4 linked regions of the Homo sapiens genome follow. Each later gene encodes a partner of the first gene's protein in a complex. Each region holds a gene or a part of one and is shown in the gene's direction. Other genes may lie near its edges.

Region 1 (5,216 bases):
CTCCCCCAAGGAGGCCTCAGCATAATTCTTCAGGTGCATCTCCTAGGAGAGTCCGTCATGATTCACCAGATCCCTCTCCTCCTAGGCGAGCCCGTCATGGTTCCTCAGATATCTCTTCCCCCAGAAGGGTCCATAACAACTCCCCTGACACATCTAGGAGGACTCTTGGCTCTTCAGACACACAGCAACTCAGAAGGGCCCGTCATGACTCCCCTGATTTGGCTCCTAATGTCACTTATTCCCTGCCCAGAACCAAAAGTGGTAAAGCCCCAGAAAGAGCCTCTAGCAAGACTTCTCCACATTGGAAGGAGTCAGGAGCCTCCCATTTGTCATTCCCAAAGAACAGCAAATATGAGTATGACCCTGACATCTCTCCTCCACGAAAAAAGCAAGCAAAATCCCATTTTGGAGACAAGAAGCAGCTTGATTCCAAAGGTGAGCATATGACTGTCCATGAGAGGGATGTATGTATCCCTGGGAGCTTTCTTTTGGCCGTTTAGTTGATTTATTAGGTATAAGAATGGAATTTCTTTGGGAAAGTTTTGAAAAGTGAGAGGCTGGGTTTGGGAGAGTTGAACAATTATGGTGGCAGGGAGGAAGGTTTTCATATGTCTTTTTATGTGCTCGCTCCACCCCATATAAAAGTACAATTTATTTGTTGCAGAAGCTTTGGAATGTACAGAAGTATATAAAGATAAAATGTGACACAAAATTCTGTCATTCAGAGGCAATTATTGTTAGTGTTGTGGCCAGGGTCATCTTAGTCTTTTTTGGTTTGCATTTTTTATATAGTTGAGCTCTGGCTGTGTAGAACATTTGTATTGCATGTGCAATCTTGCCTGCTGTCCTTTCTTAACGTAGTCTTCCTCAGGCCATAAAACATCTTTATGTTAGTATAATTTTTAATAGTGTTTAATTACAAATTTAACCATTTTCCTAATAATGAATGTTTTTGGTTATTTCTAAGTTTTTTCTTCTGTAATTCTATAATGAACATCCTTGTACATAAACTGTTGTCCCCATTTTGGATTATTTCCTTATCTACTTCTAGATAGATTTCCTCGAAATTCAACTACTTCTATATAAGTTTCCTAGAAAGCTGAGAAGTTGATGTACTGGGTCAGAAGATGTGGGCGTTTTAAAGACTGTCGATACATATTGCAGAATGCCCTTTGGGAGGTGACTTGTGATGCTTATACAGTCGCTAGAACTTAGGCCTGTGCAGTGAAATTTTTTACTCCCTCTTTTGTTCCTAGGAACTATTTTAATTTTAAAATTAAAGTACTTTGTTATCCTTTAGTCCAAGGATATCAGACTATATTCCAGGTATTTCTGACTTTTGCCACACTATGGAGAGCTGACTACAAGTTATTTTGTCTTTCCATGGGTGGGGTTACTGACATAGAGGAGTGTGTGGAGATTTTACACACCAGTTACAGTCAGTGGTCACTTGGGAATAGAATGCCATATTCTACCTGTTGGTCTTAAAAGTTGTTTCTGACTTTGCTCTTCTCCTGTGCCATCCATACTTATGTTTAGGTTAATGATAATTCTTCATAGGAAAACTAAATAAATATTGTACATTAGCTTGGTAAGTTATCTTTTTAGATTCTTCCAAGGGGATTAAAGAACTCTTTGGCCAGGCATGGTGGCTCAAGCCTATAATCCCAGCACTTTGGAGGCCGAGGTGGGCAGATCACCTCAGGTCAGGAGTTCAAGACCAGCCTGGCCAACATAGCGAAACCCCATCTCTACTAAAAACACAAAAATTAGCTGGGCGTGGTGGCACACACCTGTAATTCCAGCTACTTGGGAGGCTGAGGCACAATAATTGCTTGAACCCAGGAGGCGGAGGTTGCAGTGAGCTGAGATCATGCCACTGCACTCCAGCCTGAGACTGTCTCAAAAAAAAAAAAATAATAATAATGTAAGGAATTCTTTAATTTCTAGGTTCTTCTCCCAGCCATAGGAGATTTCATGTAAGTTCTTCACCTAGAGGACATCAGAGTCACACAGATTCTTTGCTCCTATCCAGGTGACTGCCAGAAAGCAACTGATTCAGACCTTTCTTCTCCACGGCATAAACAAAGTCCAGGGCACCAGGATTCTGATTCAGATCTGTCACCTCCACGGAATAGACCTAGACACCGGAGCTCTGATTCTGACCTCTCTCCACCAAGGAGGAGACAGAGGACCAAATCTTCTGATTCTGACCTGTCCCCGCCTCGAAGGAGTCAGCCTCCTGGAAAGAAGGTCAGGATTTTCAGGAGCCATGTCCTTCTTTTCGTGTGACTCTTCTCTCTCAGCTTTATATATGTCCCAGAGAATCAAGCCAAGAAGAAGGATGTAGCTCTGAGAAGTGTAGTAAATCTTAGTTAAAAGGACCTTTGGAGGTCTTTCCTTCTGAAGGCAAACTGGCTATAACCCATCCCAGATGGACTTACAGATACCAGATTTCCCAAGTAGCTTCTGCGTTTATAGCCTCTTAATTCTACAATCTCATTTTAACAGGTCTAGAAAAACTTCCTATTTTCTTAGGAATAAACCGAGGACTGTAATTTGCAGAGTGAAGTTTGGAGCACAAGCATTGTGTCAAACGGATCACATACAGAAATTCTCCTTCTGCCACTTACTGTCTGTGAGATTTGGGCAAGATGCTTAATATCTCTAAACCTCAGTTTCTTTATCTGTAAATTGTGGATAATAGTAGTACCTACTGTGTAAGGTTGTTATGATAATTAAGCCAGTGTAAGTAAAACTCTTAGCACAGTGTCTGGGACAAAGTAAGCATCTAGTGTTAGTGATTTACTAGTATAAATTGGACTATAGGTCTCTGTATCCAGAGCTTAAGGAGAGGCACTTAAAATATGAAACCACTTTTAGAAATCATGTTGTCTGAGAAGTCAATGGTTTGTTTTAAATTCATGATAAGGCTTGATGAATTAGCCAAAAAACCCCAAAATCCATATGAACCTTGAGTAATTATATTGTAAAGAACATTGGTAGTAGTAAAGGAATCTTATTTGTAAGTGGTTAAGAAACAGAATGATAGAGCCTGTGATGTGCATTTTTCTCCCCAGTGCAGACTTATCAGGTAAATCTTGTCTGTAGAAGACTCTGAGAAGACTGGTCCTGGCAGGGTAGACCAGCCTGTTCTTTACCCAGGAAGTGAGATTCTTCTTTTTTAGGGAAAAAAGAGGTCTCTGTTTCAGCTGGACCTCTTGGCATTTTATATATCCATTTAGTTCATGGACAACTTAATATTATTCCAATTTCGTTGCTGAAGGATATCAAGATATACTGTGTGCTTCATTCGTGGGCTGATTTGCTATCTTGATGCTAAGTGGAAATTAGCAAAAAGTTTTCATTTGTTAGATCTTCTGTTATTACCATGAAATATATCCACAATTTAAGGATCTTAGGTTTGCTTGAGTTTGTACTGTAAATGGAATATTTTATCAGTATGGGTCTCTAATGGAAGGCTTAGTGCTTTATACTGGTTTCTGATCAGATGACCTGAGATAGTCTTCATGTGTGCAGTTTATATACTGAAAAGTCAGAAATACAAATGCGTAGCCCTCCATTTAATATATTGTTAGTGTTTCTGCTTATTCTTAAACTTGATGGTTTTGATGATGGTTTTCTTTTATAGTTTTTGAATCCTATGGTAATTATTGAGAATATAAAGCTAGAGTTTTAGGTTTAATTATTGCTGGTCATTAGACACAAATGCAACTAACTGTGTACCCATGGAGCCTACTGTCACATCATCTCATTAATGTTGGATGCTCCCTTTTCCGTTGCATAGGCTGCACACATGTATTCTGGGGCTAAAACTGGGTTGGTGTTAACTGACATACAGCGAGAACAGCAGGAGCTCAAGGAACAGGATCAAGAAACCATGGCATTTGAAGGTAAAAATATGAAAGTGCAGAGACCAATTTAGGCTCATACTGTTTTTTTTTTTTTAATTTAGCTTATTGTACCTGATATTTTGAACTTTTAATTGCTATCAAATTTCAGCTCTGGTTTTATGCATTGTTGTAATTTCTCAGTGAATCCCAGTGCTTCTTTCCTTCTTGAAAAATGCCATTTCGCCCAGGCGCGGTGGCTCATGCTTGTAATCCCAGCACTTTGGTAGGCCGAGGCGGGTGGATCAGCTGAGGTCTGTAGTTCAAGACCAGCCTGGCTAACATGATGAAACCCTGTCTCTACCAAAAATACAAAAAAAAACTAGCCAGGCATGGTGTTGCATGCCTGTAATCCCAGCTACTCAGGAGGCTGAGACAGGAGAATCGCTTGAACCTGGGAGGTGGAGGTTGCAGTGAGCCAAGATCGCGCCACTGCACTCCAACCTGGGCAACAGAGTGAGACTCCATCTCAAAAAAAAAAAAAAAAAAAAAAGGAAAATGCCATTTCTTGGGCCCAGTGCCAATATGCACCAAGATGTTGGTAGGAACTACTTTGGTCTGGCTGCAGAAGTTCTTATCTAGCATTAGAATCCCAAGCGGTTGATTTGATCTCTTAGAATGTTATTTCTGATTTTGATCCTGATATTTGAGTATAATTTTCCTTTGCAGCTGAATTTCAATATGCTGAAACCGTATTTCGAGATAAGTCTGGTCGTAAGAGGAATTTGAAACTCGAACGTTTAGAGCAAAGGAGGAAAGCAGAAAAGGACTCAGAGAGAGATGAGCTGTATGCCCAGTGGGGAAAAGGGTAAGGGAACCACTGAAAGGGTAAACAAGATGGCAGTGACTGGAACAAGTCATTTCTCTGCTCTTCTGATCACTCACTTTCTTATTATGCCTTCAGAGCTGTTATCAGTAATGGGAAATTTGGTGTGCTGAATCTTCTTCCTAGGATATTGATATATTCCACGCTTCTAGTGGGTATTCTGGGAATTTTACCCTGCTCAGTATTTGCCCTAGGGTACTAGAAAGAGGAGATTGTCCAAACTTAGCAGTATGGTCCATCTCGTGTAGAAGTGGAAATGTCATACAGGATAGCAAACACTCTTGGTTCCTTTTTGCCCAGGCTTGCCCAGAGCCGGCAACAGCAACAAAATGTGGAGGATGCAATGAAAGAGATGCAAAAGCCTCTGGCCCGCTATATTGATGACGAAGATCTGGATAGGATGCTAAGAGAACAGGAAAGAGAGGGGGACCCTATGGCCAACTTCATCAAGAAGAATAAGGCCAAGGAGAACAAGAATA
Region 2 (5,216 bases), on another chromosome or scaffold:
AGGCGGATGGTTCACGAGGTCAAGAGATTGAGACCATCCTGGCCAACATGGTAAAACCCCGTTTCTACTAAAAATACAAAAATTAGCCGGGCATGGTGGCGGGCGCCTGTAGTCCCAGCTACTCGGGAGGCTGAGGCAGGAGAATCACTTGAACCCAGGAGGCAGAGGTTGCAGTGAGCCAAGATGGTGCCACTGCACTCCAGCCTGGCAACAGAGCGAGACTCTGTCTCAAAAAAAAAAGGTGTCACAAGATTTCTTCTCAAAGGTCTGGGTAGTTTTAAGGTGGGGGAGGTTGGGGGCAGAACCTGTGGTGTTGGGAACTTCCCACAAAGGCGATCAGGCCATTGTAAGCTGCTAGTGGCCTTTGTGGGCACAGTTGGATCTGCAGGGCATGGGCCCCCTCTGGCTGAGGCTGTGGTCTGTTTGTTGTTGGAGGCAGAAGTTGCTCATGCTGGGAACCAAGGCGGCAGCTGAGTAGGGGATGTGGGTGGTCTGGAGGGATTTGTCCAGTAGCTCTTGGGCTAGGCTTTTCTTTGCCACAGCTCATAGAGCCCAGCCCAGTGCTGCGGCTCCTGCTTCATGCCCATTACACACCTTCCGCTGTTCTTGTGGCCAGAGGCCCGGATGAGTTGTGCAGCCCACCCCTGCCCAGGTGGTGATCTTGTGCTAGGTTCTAGTCCAGGTCTTTTGCCTGTGGAGATGCTATGGCTTAGGGGTTGTCCTTGCTTACTGGGTGCATGCATTCCAGGGAGATGCTGTAGCACCTGAGGCCAAGGCCCTTTTGCCCCGCTTGTCTGAGCCCAGAGCCCGGTCCCCAGTCGGTGCAGCATTCGCAGGTGAATGAATGGGTGAACCTCAGCACGTCATTGACGTCGGTGGAGGACACGGCGCTCCACCCTGGTGGCCGAGGGTGGGCTGCCTCCCCTCCTGTGATCAGCAGTGTGTGTGTGTGTGTGTGTGTGTGTGTGTGTGTGTCTCATTCAGCAAATATTTATTTATTTATTTTGTGTGTGTGTGTGTGTGTGTGTGTGTGTGTTATTGTTTATTTTTTATTTCTCCAAACCTCTTTTTTTTTTTATTGATCATTCTTGGGTGTTTCTCACAGAGGGGGATTTGGCAGGGTCATAGGACAATAGTGGAGGGAAGATCAGCAGATAAACAAGTGAACAGAGGTCTCTGGTTTTCCTAGGCAGAGGACCCTGCGGCCTTCTGCAGTGTTTGTGTCCCTGGGTACTTGAGATTAGGGAGTGGTGATGACTCTTAACTAGCATGCTGCCTTCAAGCATCTGTTTAACAAAGCACATCTTGCACCGCCCTTAATCCATTTAACCCTGAGTGAACACCGCACATGTTTCAGAGAGCACAGGGTTGGGGGTAAGGTCATAGATCAACAGCATCCCAAGGCAGAATTTTTCTTAGTACAGAACAAAATGGAGTCTCCTATGTCTACTTGTTTCTACACAGACACAGCAACAATCTGATTTCTGTATCTTTTCCCCACATTTCCCCCTTTTCTATTCGACAAAACCACCATCGTCATCATGGCCTGTTCTCAATGAGCTGTTGGGTACACCTCCCAGATGGGGTGGCAGCCGGGCAGAGGGGCTCCTCACTTCCCAGAAGGGGCGGCCGGGCAGAGGCGCCCCTACCTCCCGGACGGGGCGGCGGCCAGGCGGGGGCTGCCCCCCACCTCCCTCTTGGACGGGGCGGCTGGCCGGGCGGGGGCTGCCCCCCACCTCCCTCCCGGACGGGGCGGCTGCCGGGCGGAGACGCTCCTCACTTCCTAGACAGGGCGGCTGCCGGGCAGAGGGGCTCCTCGCTTCTCAGACGGGGCGGCTGCCGGGCGGAGGGGCTCCTCACTTCTCAGACGGGGCGGCCAGGCAGAGACACTCCTCACCTCCCAGATGGGGTTGCAGCCAGGCAGAGGCGCTCCTCACATCCCAGACGATGGGTGGCTGGGCAGAGACGCTCCTCACATCCCAGACAGGGTGGCGGCCGGGCAGAGGCTGCAATCTCGGCACTTTGGGAGGCCAAGGCAGGCGGCTGGGAGGTGGAGGTTGTAGCTAGCCGAGATCACGCCACTGCACTCCAGCCTGGGCAACATTGAGCACTGAGTGAACGAGACTCCGTCTGCAATCCCGGCACCTCGGGAGGCCGAGGCTGGCAGGTCACTCGCGGTTAGGAGCTGGAGACCAGCCTGGCCAACACAGCGAAACCCCGTCTCCACCCAAAAAATACGAAAACCAGTCAGGCGTGGCGGCGCGCGCCTGCAATCCCAGGCACTCGGCAGGCTGAGGCAGGAGAATCACGCAGGGAGGTTGCAGTGAGCCGAGATGGCAGCAGTACAGTCCAGCTTTGGCTCGGCATCAGAGGGAGACCCTGGGGAGCGGGAGCGGGAGAGGGAGAGGGAGGGACAGCAAATATTTATTGAGTGCCTGCCATGTGCAGAGAGCACAACAGGCTGTGTCTCTCCTGAATGAGAGGAGCATGCATTCTGGTGGGGGAGAACACCAGAGAGCAGCTCAGCAGGGTGTGCCAGAGGCTGCTTGTGTGTGTAGAGCACAGCAGGGGGAGGGGAGAGGGCCGCCCTGACCCGCTGCAGGGAGGGAGAGCCGTGTGGGCATCGGGGGAGTGCAGGGCCAGGCTGATGGCACAGCCAGTGCAAAGACCCTGAGGTGGGCGCACGCTCAAGGGTGTCTGTGCCCAGCTGGGAGTCCAATGTGGCTGGAACAGCGTGTGCTAGCGGTGGAAGCAGGGGATGTGGTGACAGAGGTCAGGGGTGGGGATGGTGTGCAGAGCAGTCCTGTGGGGCCTGGGAGCCACAGGAGGACTTGGGCTTCCGCTCCAAGATGAGAGCCACTGAGGGAGGAATGAGGTCCAGCCTTTTTTTTTCTTTTAAAACTTTGACCTGGCAGTCAGCTTCTTTTGTTGTGTTTCCTTTTTTCTTTTGAAATGAGGTCTCTGTCACCCAGGCTGGAATGCAGTGGCACAGTCTCAGCTCACTGCAACCTCTGCCTCCTGGGCTCAAGAGATCCTCCCACCTCAGCCTCCCAAGTAGCTGGGACTACAGGCACCACCACTGCACCCAGCTAGTTTTTGTGTTTTTTGTAGAGACGGGGTTTCACCATGTTGGCCAGGCTGGTCTCGAACTCCTGGGCTCAAGTGATCCACCTGCCTCAGCCTCCCAAAGTGCTGGGATTACAGGCGTGAGCCACTGCGCCCCACCTGTTTCTTTGTTAATTGGAATTCCCCGTGCGTGAAAGTGGAGTGAGGAGGTGTGATACGCCTCCCCTGTGCCCATCATCAACTCCAGCCCCTGCTGTCTCCCATCTGTGCAGTTCTGTCTTTGCTCCCACCAGTACCCCCTTGCATGATGCTGAAGCCCCAATTTAAAAAACAGTTTTCACATCAGAAGGATTTTTGTTTGTTTGTTTGTTTTTGAGACATGGTCTTGCCCTGTTGCCCAGGCTGGAGTGTAGTGGCATGATCAGAGCGCACTGTTGCTTCGACCTTCCAGGACCAAGTGCTCCTTCCACCTCAGTCTCCCAAGTAGATGGGACCACAGGCATGTACTACCATGCCCAGCCAATTTTTTTTTTTTTTTTTTTTGAGATGGAGTTTCGCTCTTGTTCCCCAGGCTGGAGTGCAATGGCGTGATCTCGGCTCACTGCAACCTCCGCCTCTTGGGTTCAAGCGATTCTCCTGGCTCAGCCTCCCGAGTGGCTGGGATTACAGGCATGTGCCACCACACCTGGCTAATTTTGTATTTTTAGTAGAGACGGGGTTTCTCCATGTTGGTCAGGCTGGTCTCAAACTCCCGACCTCAGGTGATCCTCCCGCCTCTGCCTCCGAAAGTGCTGGGATTACAGGTGTGAGCCACCGCGCCCAGCCCCAGCTACTTTTTTAATTTTTATTTTTGTAGAGATGAGGTTTCCCTATGTCACCCAGGCTGGTCTTGAAGTCCTGGGCTCAAGTGATCCTCCCGCGTCAGCATCCCCCCACCAAAAAAAAACAGCTGGGCACCATGGTTTACGCCTGCAATCTCAGCACTTTGGGAGGCCAAGGTGGGAGGATTGCTTGAGCCCAGGAGTTCAAGACCAGCCTGGGCAACATAATGAAACCTTGTCTCTACAAAATGAAACCTAAAAATTAGCCAGTGTGGTTGAGCACACCTGTAGTCCCAGCTACTTGGGAGGCTGAGGTGGGAGGATTATTGGAGCTTGGGAAGTTGAGACTGCGTGAGCTGTGATTGCGCCACTGCATTCCAGCCTGGGTGATAGAGCTAGACCCTGTCTCAAAAAACAAAACAAAACAAAAAAACGGGGTCTCAGCCTATCGCCTAGGCTGGTCTCAAACTCCTGACCTCAAGCAATCCTCCCACCTTGGCCTCCCAAAGCACTGGGACTAGAGGTGTGAGCCACCTCTAACTTGAGGCTCTAACTAATTTGAGGCTCTAACTTGGCCTCAAATCAGGATTTTTTTTAAGAAAAAGTCCCCACAAGGCCAGGTGCGGTGGCTCACGCCTGTAATCCCAGCACTTTGGGAGGCCAAGGTGGGCAGATCACGAGATCAGGAGATCGAGACCATCCTGGCTAACACGGTGAAACCCCGTCTCTACTAAAAAAATACAAAAAATTAGCCGGGCATGGTGGCGGGCGCCTGTAGGTCCCAGCTACTCAGGAGGCTGAGGCAGGAGAATGGCGTGAACCCGGGAGGCGGAGCTTGCAGTGAGCCGAGGAGATCATGCCACTGCACTGCAGCCTGGGCAACGGCAAGACTCTGTCTCAAAAAAAAAAAAAAAGAAAAAGTCCCCACAAATACATGTGGTTGATGTTTCTGAGTCCCCCTACTGCACTTACTTTTTTATCCCCAGAAGTGGGCACTTTGACAGGGCCCCTGGCCACTGGGTGGGGACTTACAGGCAGAGAGACAGTAACCAAGGCCAGGTGCAGTGGCTCATGCCTGTAATGCCAGCACTTTGAGAGGCTGAGGCAGGCAGATGACTTGAGGTCAGGAGTTCGGGACCAGTCTGGCCAAGGTGGTGAAACACTGTCTCTACTAAAAATACAAAAATTAGTCGTACATGGTGACGCATGCATGCCTGTAGTCTCAGCTACTCCGGAGGCGGAGGCAGCAGAATCGCTGGAACCCAGGAGATGGAGGTTGCAGTGAGCCGAGATCACGCTACTGCACCTCAGCCTGGGTGACAGAGCAAG
Region 3 (5,216 bases), on another chromosome or scaffold:
AGTCTTGCTCTGTTGCCCAGGCTGGAGTGCGGTGGCATGATCTTGGCTTACTGCAACCTCTGTCTCCCAGGTTCAAGCGACTCTCCTGCCTCAGCCTCCCAAGTAGCTGGAAATACAGGCATGCACCACCATGCTCGGCTAATTTTTTGTATTTTTAGTAGACGGGGTTTCACCATTTTGGCCAGGCTGGTCTCGAACTCCCAACCTCAGGAGATCCGTCTGCCTCGGCCTCCCAAAGTGCTGGAATTGCAGGTGTGAGCCACTGTGCCTGGTCAAAATTTTGAATTTTTAATTTTTTTGTCACACTATGTTGCCCAGGCTGGTCTCGAACTCCTGAGCTCAAGCCATCCTCCCACCTCAGCCTCCCAAAGTACTAGGATTACAGGCATGAGCCACTGTGCCCAGCCTTCCTGCTTTTTTACCTTAGCTGGCTCTGTCTCAGCTAATCTGTTCTTTTCCAGCTCAAGTCTAGCAGAGTCATGAACTTAATTACCCAGAGCTGGGTGAGGACCCCCTTTGAGGGCCCTAGGTCTGTCATCCTATCTATTTGCCCTTCTTTTCTGGTTTTCAGCATCTGTCTTTTCCTCCTTTTCTCCTGCCTGGTTTTTACAACTTCTTTCTCTGAAATGTACCTGGTCCCAGGGTGCATATTTAGTAAAGGGCAAACTTCTTCTTTTTTCTTTGTCATTCAGGGTTATACAAACAAGGGTATGAAGATTGCCTGCACCCAACCCCGGAGAGTGGCTGCCATGAGTGTGGCCGCCCGAGTGGCCCGGGAGATGGGTGTGAAGCTTGGGAATGAGGTGAGATTTCTAGGGAACCGGGGGGTAGAGTCTGGGGTCTGTGACTCAGTCTACAGTTCCCTCAGGTCCCTACAGCAGAAGTCTTGGTGCTGCCCCACTTCACCTTTCCCCAAGTTCCTTTCAGGGCACACCAGCCCACACTTGGTTGCTAATGGTTCCCTTGACCAGGTTGGCTACAGCATCCGCTTTGAGGACTGCACATCAGAGCGAACTGTCCTCCGCTACATGACAGATGGGATGCTTCTCCGGGAGTTCCTCTCTGAGCCTGACCTGGCGAGTTACAGGTATCTCTAATCTCTGGCCTTTCTCTCCCTTCTTCCCACCCAGCCAATTCAGCCATTGTCTTCTGATTAATCCACCCGTTCTTGAATCTTTGTGGTTCAAATGGTCCTTGAACTGACCTCCAGGTACCACGGAGATGGGGCTGGAGGACAGAAGAGATTGTAGAGAAAGCCTCTTCTTTCCCCATTCATCTCCAGGGTTTAGAAAACAACCAGGATAGCAGAGCATTGCTGCCGAGACTTGAAATACCGTGTGAAGACCATTTGAAAACACTTGGAATGCTCAGCTCAGAGGGAGAAACAGGAAGCATCCTGGTTCCCTCTAAATATGTGAAGGCTGTTACATGGAAAGAAGGATCAGATTGTTTTATGTGACCCTACACGACATAGCTAGGAGCCATGGGGAGGTTACAGGGAGACAGATTCCAACTCAATACCAATGGCTGAGTAACCCTCAGAGTGGTGGAGATTGCAGGGCCTGTCAGAGTGGTTGGACTCTGGGTCTTGGCCCTCCACACAAGTCTTGGGTAGCTTGGTCTGTGAATAATGAGCTCTTAGTGCTGGAAATGGCCAAGCAGGGGTTGGTTGAACATGTGTTGAGGGGGAAAAGGGATTCATGAATGTAATGGGGGTGGGGTCAGGCCAGCTGAACAATATGTGCCTTTTTGACTCTTCAGAGGCTGTGAATTTCTGGTCTTGGAAGATCACAGTGGAGCAATTGGACAGATAGGATTTTATCCTTCATATCCCTTGCAAAAGATCTCTAAGAACCCATGGAGAGCCAGCCAGCGCAAGAGTGTCTGATGCAGATGTTTTTGCCCATCGAGCCAGCCTGCTTTGTGGAATGGCTGGGGACTTCACCATCACAGTTAGGGTTAGGCACAAAGAGTTGAGGTCAGGGAGGTGGGTAGGGGAAGATGGGGATGAGTTCCTGGGACTTGGCTGCCACCCAGAAAAGCCAAAGAACAAAGAGAAAGAAGGTGTCATGCACATAACTGAGTTAGGAGGAAACCAAGGAGCATGCAGAGTCCTGTGAGAGTTGAGGTAGAAAGGCTTAACTTGCTCCTGTCTCCAAAAGAAGAAACAGTCAAGAATGATGCCAGCAGCAGTTGTCCCACAGGACACCAGGAGCTTCTAGGCTATTTGAATCACAGCAGCTCAGGTCTATTACCCCCAGTCAGCCTTGCTGGCCCACCCTTATTGAAAGGGACCCTGCCTTCCACTTTTTTTTTCCTTTAAAACGTATCAGCCGGGAGCGGTGGCTCACGCCTGTAATCCCAGCACTTTGGGAGGCAGAGGCAGGCGGATCACGAGGTAAGGAGATCAAGACCATCCTGGCTAACACGGTGAAACCCCGTCTCTACTAAAAAATATAAAAAATTAGCTGGGCGTGGTGGCGGGCACCTGTAGTCCCAGCTACTCAGGAGGCTGAGGCAGGAGAATGGCGTGAACGCAACCCAGGAGGCGGAGCTTGCGGTGAGCCGAGATCGTGCCACTGTACTCCAGCCTGGGCGACAGAGTGAGACTCTGTTTCAAAACTCCGTCTCTACTAAAAATACAAAAAATTAGCCAGGCACAGTGGCAGGCACCTGTAGTCCCAGCTACTTGGGAGGCTGAGGCAGGAGAATGGTGTGAACCCAGGAGGCGGAGCTTGCAGTGAGCTGAGATCATGCCACTACACTCCAGCCTGCAACAGAGCAAGACTGTCTCAAAAAAAAAATCCTTCCACTTTTTCTTTTTTCTTTTTTTAGATGGAGTCTCGCTCTGTCACCCAGGCTGGAGTGCAGTGGCACGATCTTGGCTCACTGCAACCTCTGCCTCCCAGGTTCAAGCGATTCTCCTGCCTCAGCCTCCCAAGTAGCTGGGACTACAGGCGTCTACCACCACATCTGGCTAATTTTTTTTGTATTTTTAGAAGAGACGGGGTTTCACTGTATTGGCCAGACTGGTCTCGAACTCCTGACCTTGTGATCCACCTGCCTCGGCCTCCCAAGGTGCTGGGATTACAGGCGTGAGCTACCACCATGCCCAGCCTAAAACATATCCTTCAACTTTTTCTAGTAAGAGCAGCTGCTGAGTCTAAGCAGACTCTTGACTGAACTAGAGGGTATGGCTAACTTGTCCTGGCCTCAGTGTGCAGCCTCTACATCTTGTCTCCTATTATCTGCTGAGGCTGGGATAGGTTGCAGATCATGGGGCCCTGGCCTTCTCTGACTTTCTGTTGCTCTACATAAGTGGGATGGCTGACTTCTCCTTAGAGCCCCCTCCGTCAACAGTCATTCTTGAACTCTTTGTGTCCATTACTCCCCTCTCATCCAGTTAACTCTGGTGTCTGATACTGCATTGCCTAGCGCTCTTCCCTCATTGCTCTCCTATTCCCTCCCCAGCGTGGTGATGGTGGATGAGGCACACGAAAGGACCCTACACACAGACATTCTCTTTGGATTGATCAAGGATGTTGCTCGCTTCCGACCTGAGCTCAAGGTCCTGGTGGCTTCAGCCACAATGGACACTGCCCGTTTTTCCACCTTCTTTGATGACGCCCCTGTGTTTCGAATCCCCGGACGCAGGTTTCCTGTGGACATCTTCTACACCAAGGTGCCCCCTCAGGGAGGATGGGCTTAAGTCTGTGGCAGAAAAGCTGAGGCCTTTGGAGAAGGTTATCCTGTGGAGGGAAAGATGGAATGGAAGGTTCAAAGGGGAACTAGGATAAAGTGTATGTTGAATTGGGAGGAGAGGAAAGGTTTGCCTAAGCAGGTGGCCCTCCTGTGACCCCATCTCTTTCTGCTCTCCAGGCTCCAGAGGCTGACTACTTGGAAGCTTGTGTAGTATCTGTGTTGCAGATCCATGTGACCCAGCCCCCTGGGGATATCCTGGTGTTCCTGACAGGACAGGTGCCTGACATGGTGGGGAGAGGGGATGATGTATCCCAGGGGAAGACAGGGCCGGCATGTTGGCCTTCTGTGACTCTGGGACCCCTGCTGCTCTCCCTACCCTCTATCCAGGAGGAGATTGAGGCTGCCTGTGAGATGCTCCAGGATCGCTGCCGCCGCCTGGGCTCCAAAATCCGGGAGCTCCTGGTGCTGCCCATTTATGCCAATCTGCCCTCTGACATGCAGGCCCGTATCTTCCAGCCCACACCACCTGGGGCACGAAAGGTCAGTTGGAGAAACCCACACTCTTCACCCCTATGCTTCCCACAACTAGTAGTGAAAAAGCTGTGTGCCTGCCCCATGCAAGGTGAGTCCTGCGCACTGCTGCACACAGCTGAGGAGCAGCCAGTCCCTTGTTCCTGGGACTGAAGAGAGGAGAAATATGGTGTGAACCAAGAGAGAGCCAAATATGTGATCTGGAAAGTATGCACAGTAGATTCAGTGGAGAAGGGAAGTCCTTGATGTGCTAAGAGGTGGGATTTGATATGGACCTTTAAGAGAAATGTCTGAGGTCAGGTGCGGTGGCTCACGCCTGTAATCCCAGGACTTTCGGAGGCTGAGGTGGGCGGATCACTTGAGGTCAGTAGTTCGAAACCAGGCTGCCTAACGTGGTGAAACCCTGCCTCCACTGAAAATACAAAAATCAGCAGGGCATGGTGGCGTGCGCCTATAATCCCACCTGTTTAGGAGGCTGAGTCATGAGAATCGCTTGAACCCAGGAGGAGGAGGTTGCAGTGAGCTGAGATTGTGCCACTGCACTCCAGCCTGGGTGACAATGCGAGACTCCATCTCAAAAAAGAAAAATGGCTGAGAAGTCATCAGAGGAAGGCCCAAGGTATGTTTGAGGTCAGAGTGTGAGCTAGTAGGCTTAGTGGGAGGTTCATGTGGTGAAGGAGTAGGAGACAAGGCTAAAAACAATTTGGGGCTAAGATTAGGGAGGGCCTTTGATGACAGGAAAGTTTGGACTTTATTTATTTTTCTTTTTTGAGACAGAGTCTCGCTCTGTTGCCCAGGCTGGAGTGCAGTGGCAAGATCTCGGCTCACTGCAGCCTCCACCTCCCAGGCTCAAGTGATTCTTGTGCCTCAGCTTCCCAAGTAGCTGGGATTACAGGTGTGTACCACCACCCCAAGCTAATTTTTTTTTTTTTTTTTTTGAGATGGAGTCTCACTCTGTCGCCCAGGCTGGAGTGCAGTGGCAC
Region 4 (5,216 bases), on another chromosome or scaffold:
GGCCTCGGCCTCCGAAAGTGCTGGGGTTACAGGCATGAGCCACCATACCTGGCCCTCTAAGAATTTTATAGTTTTAGCTCTTACATTTAGGTCCTTGATCCATGTTGAATTAATTTTTGTGTATCATGTTAGGCAGGGGCTTACCTTCATTCTTTGGCATGTGGTTAGCCAGTTGTCTTAGCACAATTTGTTGAGAAGACTACTTTTTCCTTCTATATGGACCATAGTTACTTGCTTCTTTGCATGCCTTATATTTTGTTGAAAACTAGGCATTTAAATATTATAGCGTGGTGACTCTGGAAATTAGGTCCCCAGAGCTGCTTATTGTAGTTGTTTGTTTAGTGACTTTCTGTGGGTTGGGGTAAGGTGAGAGTGGTTGGTTGGTTGGTTTTTGAGACGAAGTCTCGCTCTGTAGCCCAGGCTGGAGTGCAGTAGTGCGATCTTGGCTCACTGCAACCTCCACTCCCCGGGTTCAAGTGATTCTTGCACCTCAGCTTCCTGAGTAGCTGGGGTTACAGGGGCACACCACCATGACCAGCTAATTTTTGTATTTTTAGTAGAAACAAGGTTTTACCATGTTAGCCACGCTGGTCTTGAACTCCTGACCTCAAGTGATCCATCCACCTCGGCCTCCCAAAATGCTGGGATTACAGGTGTAAGCCACCATGCCCGGCCTGTTTAGTGAATTTTTGAACTAATTTTGTAAAGTTTGTATTCTTTGTCCTGTGTGACCACTGAATTCTTTTTTTCGTTAGCTTAGTGGTCAGCTAGTGAATGACACAAGTTTCCTAAATTACCTACAACAACAAGAACAAAAATTCTCCCAGTCTTTGCAGATTGTCTTTTTGTATGTTGGAGCCTGCCTTCAACTCCTTGCCATGCAGTTTACATCTCTCCTTAGCTTTCACTTCCTGCTTGTGCAGAGCCTGAAGGTGAACCAGAGAGCTTACGGCCTTCTCAGATCTTTTCTAAGTATGTGCCCAGCCCTGGACATGCAAGTGGTCTAGATTGCCAGGAATGGGCCAGGCGTGGTGGCTCATGCCTGTAATCTTAGCACTTTGGGAGGGTGAGGCAGACAGATCACTTGAGGCCAGGAGTTTGAGACCAGCCTGGTCAACGTGGCGAAACCCTGTCTCTACTAAAAATACAAAAATTAGCTGGGCATAGTGGCACACGCCTGTAATCCCACCTACTCGGGAGGCTGAGACATGAGAATTGCTTGAGCCCGTGAGGTGGAGGTTGCAGTGAGCCAAGATCGCACCACCGCACTCCGGCCTGGGTGACAGAGGGAGAGTCTGTCCCTAGATAGATAGATAGATAGAGATTAGATAGATAGATAGACACATAGATACATAGATAGATAGATATAGATGATAGAAAGATAGATAGATAGATAGATAGATAGATAGATAGATAGATAGATAGATAGATAGATAGCCTAGGCGACAGAGGGAGAGTGTGTCCCCAGATTAGATAGATAGATAGATAGATAGATAGATAGATAGATAGATACATAGATAGATAGATAGCCAGGAATATGTCGGTGCTTTTCGAAGCTCTTATTCCCCAAATTGTCTCCTTCCCCAGCCCTTCCTCCCAAGGTTTTTGGTTTGTATTTTTGCCCCAACTGTTTTTCCTTGCCCCCAGGAACCAGAGGCTAATAATGTCCTTTCCTTTAAATGTTTTCAAGGGAAGTTCCAAGTTAGGCAAAATAAATGTAAGTCCTTTGGGCTCATCCTTCAGAGAGCCACCAGACAGGTAAAAATAAACAATTTTTATTGTTTATTCTTTGACAATAAGAAATAGGCCCCCTTTGCTTCCTCAGTACTAGGAAACCATACTGGGAATATGGGTTATCTTCAAAGCTGTTGCTGAGCAGGAGACAGAGCCAGCACAAGTTAAAACACTACAAAGCCCTTTTACTGGGACTCAGGGAGTTTTTTGTTTCCTTTTTCCTCATTAAGGGTTTGCCGGGTTACTATAAACTTTTGATTAGTTTTGAGAGTTCCAACAGTTGATTCTGACAGATTTTGCTGGTTAATTTGCTGCTTTCGTGGAGGGACAAGCTTTTGTCATTGTTTATTATACTATTTTCACTGACATACCCTCTATTTTTTTAAATGTGGGTTGCAGCCTACTAATGAATTAGTCTCTACGGTTTGAAAAAATTGTCTGATATCCTTGTTGTTCTAAAAAATATATGAACTAAGTAGTTAGGGGAATTCCATTCTAAGAGTATGTTGATTTAACTCTGTTCACTTCAACAAAGAAGTCTGAAAATATAACCGAAGTTTTGTTTCACCAGCCTTCAAATGTCTTGGCAAAATTGAGCACACTGCTTACCATGTGTGTTATTAGGATATCCAGGAGTTAGTGATATAGGATCCCAATTATAGATGTGTTCATGTCCACAAAGTCCTCGTACTTAAGGGATATTTGTACTGTGCAATTGCTTCTTAGAATGATGTTGCTGATAGACTGTCTTGTCCTTTGCTTCAGCTTTGGGACATCCGGAAGAAAGCAGCCATCCAGACATTTCAGAACACGTACCAGGTGTTAGCTGTGACCTTCAATGACACAAGTGATCAGATTATTTCTGGTGGAATAGACAATGATATCAAGGTATGTTTGATGTTTATGATATATTTCCATTTCATCTATCTGCACTTAGAAACGAATTTTTTCAAACTTCTGAGATTGTGGTAGCTTTGCACTTAATACCAACTGAAAGGAAAATAGTAACTTGGAACTTATTTTCTTTTTCTCCTGTCTTCATTGACTTCCTAAATTAAAGTTTGCATTGCAGATCTTATAAATGCTGTCAGGGACCAGGCACTTAATGTGAAGTGTGAAGTCTCTGTAGGGGGACTATGTAAAAAATAAAGAGTGCATTTCCTTTTAAAGACATTCAAAATCTTTTTTTAACCATCTTGGTTTAAAGAGAGCAGTGAATCAGTTTGTGATTCTGTATCCTCATCTCTCACTGTGTTTTTCTTTTTGACACTATGGAAAGAGAGTTTTCTAAGTTTCTCTAAGAATGAGAGAAGGTAATGATATTAAAGAGGCAATAGACCATATGGCAGTAGAGTGTAGCTCAAACTTTCAAGTAATTGACTTGGGTTCTAATCCCAGTTTCACCATTTTCTAGTTTTGTGACTTCAAGCACCTTCTTTAAGCCTCTTTTTCTTGTGTGAATGGTGAGGGGGTAATGATAAAAAAAAAAAAAAACAGTAGCATCTACCACATACCATTGTGGGGATTAAATGAGCCTGATTCATTAGAGCACTTAGCAGAATTCCTGGACATAACAAGTGCCAGGAAATGTATTATTTTGGGCCTGCACAGCTTCTGTCTTCCTTTCCTCTTGGCTTCCTTGGGGATCTTAACGACTTTGACCTTACCTTCTGCTTTATAGTAAGAAGAGTAACTGTCAGATACTCAACTTTCTGTGTTGTCCTTACCTAGAAGTTGTACTGTATTTCCATCCCTCATTGTTTCCTTTGCTGTTACTTTGGATGAAATATCCTTGCTTTTGGCCAGGTGTGGTGGCTCACACCTGAAATCCCTGCACTTTGGGAGGCCGAGGCGGGTGGATCACAAGGTCAGGAGACCGAGACCGTCCTGGCCAATGTGGTGAAACCTCGTCTCTACTGAAAATACAAAAATTAGCTGGATGTGATGGTGGTGTGCCTGTAATCCCAGCTACTCAGGAGGCTAAGGCAGGAGATTACTTGAACCTGGGAGTCAGAAGTTGCGGTGAGCTGAGATCACGCCACTGCACTCCAGCCTGGCCACGGAGCAAGACTCCATCTCCAAAAAAAAAAAGAAAGGAATATCCTTGCTTTTGTCTAAAGGTAGTCCTTTTTTTTTTTTTTTTTTTTTGAGTCAGAGTCTTCCTCTGTAGCCCAGGCTGGAGTGCAGTGGTGCTATCTCAGCTCACTGCAACCTCTGCCTCCTGGGTCCCAGTTCAAGCAATTCTCCTGCCTCAGCCTCCTGAGTAGCTGGGATTACAGGCACGTGCCACCATGCCCAGCTAATTTTTGTATTTTTTAGTAGAGACAGGGTTTCACCATGTTGGGCAGGCTTATCTCGAACTCCTGACCTTGTGATCCACCTGCCTCGGCCTCCCAAAGTGCTGGGATTACGGGTGTGAGCCACCGTGCCCGGCCTAAAGGTAGTCCTTTAAATGTGAGGGTTTCAATCCTTCGTCACTTCTTTCAACCTCTTCTTTTCTACTTTTCTTTTTTTTGAGACAGAGTCTCACTCTGTCGCCCAGACTTGAATGCAGTGGCGTGATCTTGGCTCACTGCAACTTCTGCCTCCTGGGTTCAAGCAATTCTCTTGCCTCAGCCTCCTGAGTAGCTGGGACTACAGGCGTGTGCCACCATGCCTGGCTAATTTTGTATTTTTGGTAGAGACAGGGTTTCTCTGTGTTGGTCAGGCTGGTCTCGAACTCCTGACCTCAGGTGATCCACCCGCCTTGGCCTCCCAAAGTGGGATTACAGGCATGAGCCACCATGCCTGGCCCAAAACTTCTTAAAAAGGATGATGATGGTGGTGGTGATAATATTGTTATCATCATTATCTAACACATAGTGCTTACTTTCTGCCAGTTGTTGTTCTCAGAGCTTTACATCATTAATTCATTTAAGCTTTGCTATTGACCTCCTCACGGATCTTAAAGACTTTGACCTTACAACCTCATGAAATAAATCCTACTGATGCGATTGTACAGATGAGGAAACTGAGCTAAAAGAGGCACAACAGCTTAAACCCAGGTTACACAGCTAATACGTGATGGAACCTCAGTTCAAATCCCAGAGTTTCATTCTAGAATTATACTCTTAATACTTAGAGGAATACCCTGGAGATTTTTCTGCACTCACTGTCTTCAGTTCCTCACATACCATTCATTCTTCATTCCTAATAGTCTGGTTTTTTTTTTTGTTTTTTGTATGTGTTTTTGTTTTTTAACATAATCGCTCTGTACCATAGACCTGGTCTTCTCTCTTCCCTGAGTTCTGTGACAACAAACTGTCCTATCCATCTGGTAGTTTCTTCTCCTTCTCTACATACCATTATGAGCTACTCTGTCTGTGGAGTCTTTAAACATCATTATTCGCCAAGGGCCTTTGCTTTTCTCGCTGTGTACATTCCCCAAGACAGATCTCGTCTACTTCCACAACTCCATCATCCCTCTGCCGAAGACAATTTTC

Evidence for each region. The genes of interacting proteins can lie anywhere in the genome.
Region 2: BUD13 (region 1) and PPIL2 share a complex: the UniProt entries of both Homo sapiens proteins name them as parts of the minor spliceosome.
Region 3: BUD13 (region 1) and DHX16 share a complex: the UniProt entries of both Homo sapiens proteins name them as parts of the minor spliceosome.
Region 4: BUD13 (region 1) and SNRNP40 share a complex: the UniProt entries of both Homo sapiens proteins name them as parts of the minor spliceosome.

What each region holds. Positions count from the first base shown.
Region 1 is NC_000011.10:116,757,772-116,762,987, reverse strand, and holds part of BUD13 (BUD13 homolog), read left to right. Parts: coding exon 1-435; intron 436-2,035; coding exon 2,036-2,253; intron 2,254-3,808; coding exon 3,809-3,914; intron 3,915-4,580; coding exon 4,581-4,719; intron 4,720-5,037; coding exon 5,038-5,216. UniProt on the Homo sapiens protein: Involved in pre-mRNA splicing as component of the activated spliceosome. As a component of the minor spliceosome, involved in the splicing of U12-type introns in pre-mRNAs.
Region 2 is NC_000022.11:21,675,305-21,680,520, forward strand, and holds part of PPIL2 (RING-type E3 ubiquitin-protein ligase PPIL2), read left to right. Parts: intron 1-5,216. UniProt on the Homo sapiens protein: Has a ubiquitin-protein ligase activity acting as an E3 ubiquitin protein ligase or as an ubiquitin-ubiquitin ligase promoting elongation of ubiquitin chains on substrates.
Region 3 is NC_000006.12:30,658,498-30,663,713, reverse strand, and holds part of DHX16 (pre-mRNA-splicing factor ATP-dependent RNA helicase DHX16), read left to right. Parts: intron 1-692; coding exon 693-803; intron 804-971; coding exon 972-1,087; intron 1,088-1,282; exon of another isoform or gene 1,283-1,857; coding exon of another isoform or gene 1,858-1,958; intron 1,959-3,096; exon of another isoform or gene 3,097-3,144; intron 3,145-3,471; coding exon 3,472-3,682; intron 3,683-3,879; coding exon 3,880-3,978; intron 3,979-4,089; coding exon 4,090-4,242; intron 4,243-5,216. UniProt on the Homo sapiens protein: Required for pre-mRNA splicing as a component of the spliceosome. Contributes to pre-mRNA splicing after spliceosome formation and prior to the first transesterification reaction.
Region 4 is NC_000001.11:31,278,780-31,283,995, reverse strand, and holds part of SNRNP40 (U5 small nuclear ribonucleoprotein 40 kDa protein), read left to right. Parts: intron 1-2,499; coding exon 2,500-2,622; intron 2,623-5,216. UniProt on the Homo sapiens protein: Required for pre-mRNA splicing as component of the activated spliceosome. Component of the U5 small nuclear ribonucleoprotein (snRNP) complex and the U4/U6-U5 tri-snRNP complex, building blocks of the spliceosome.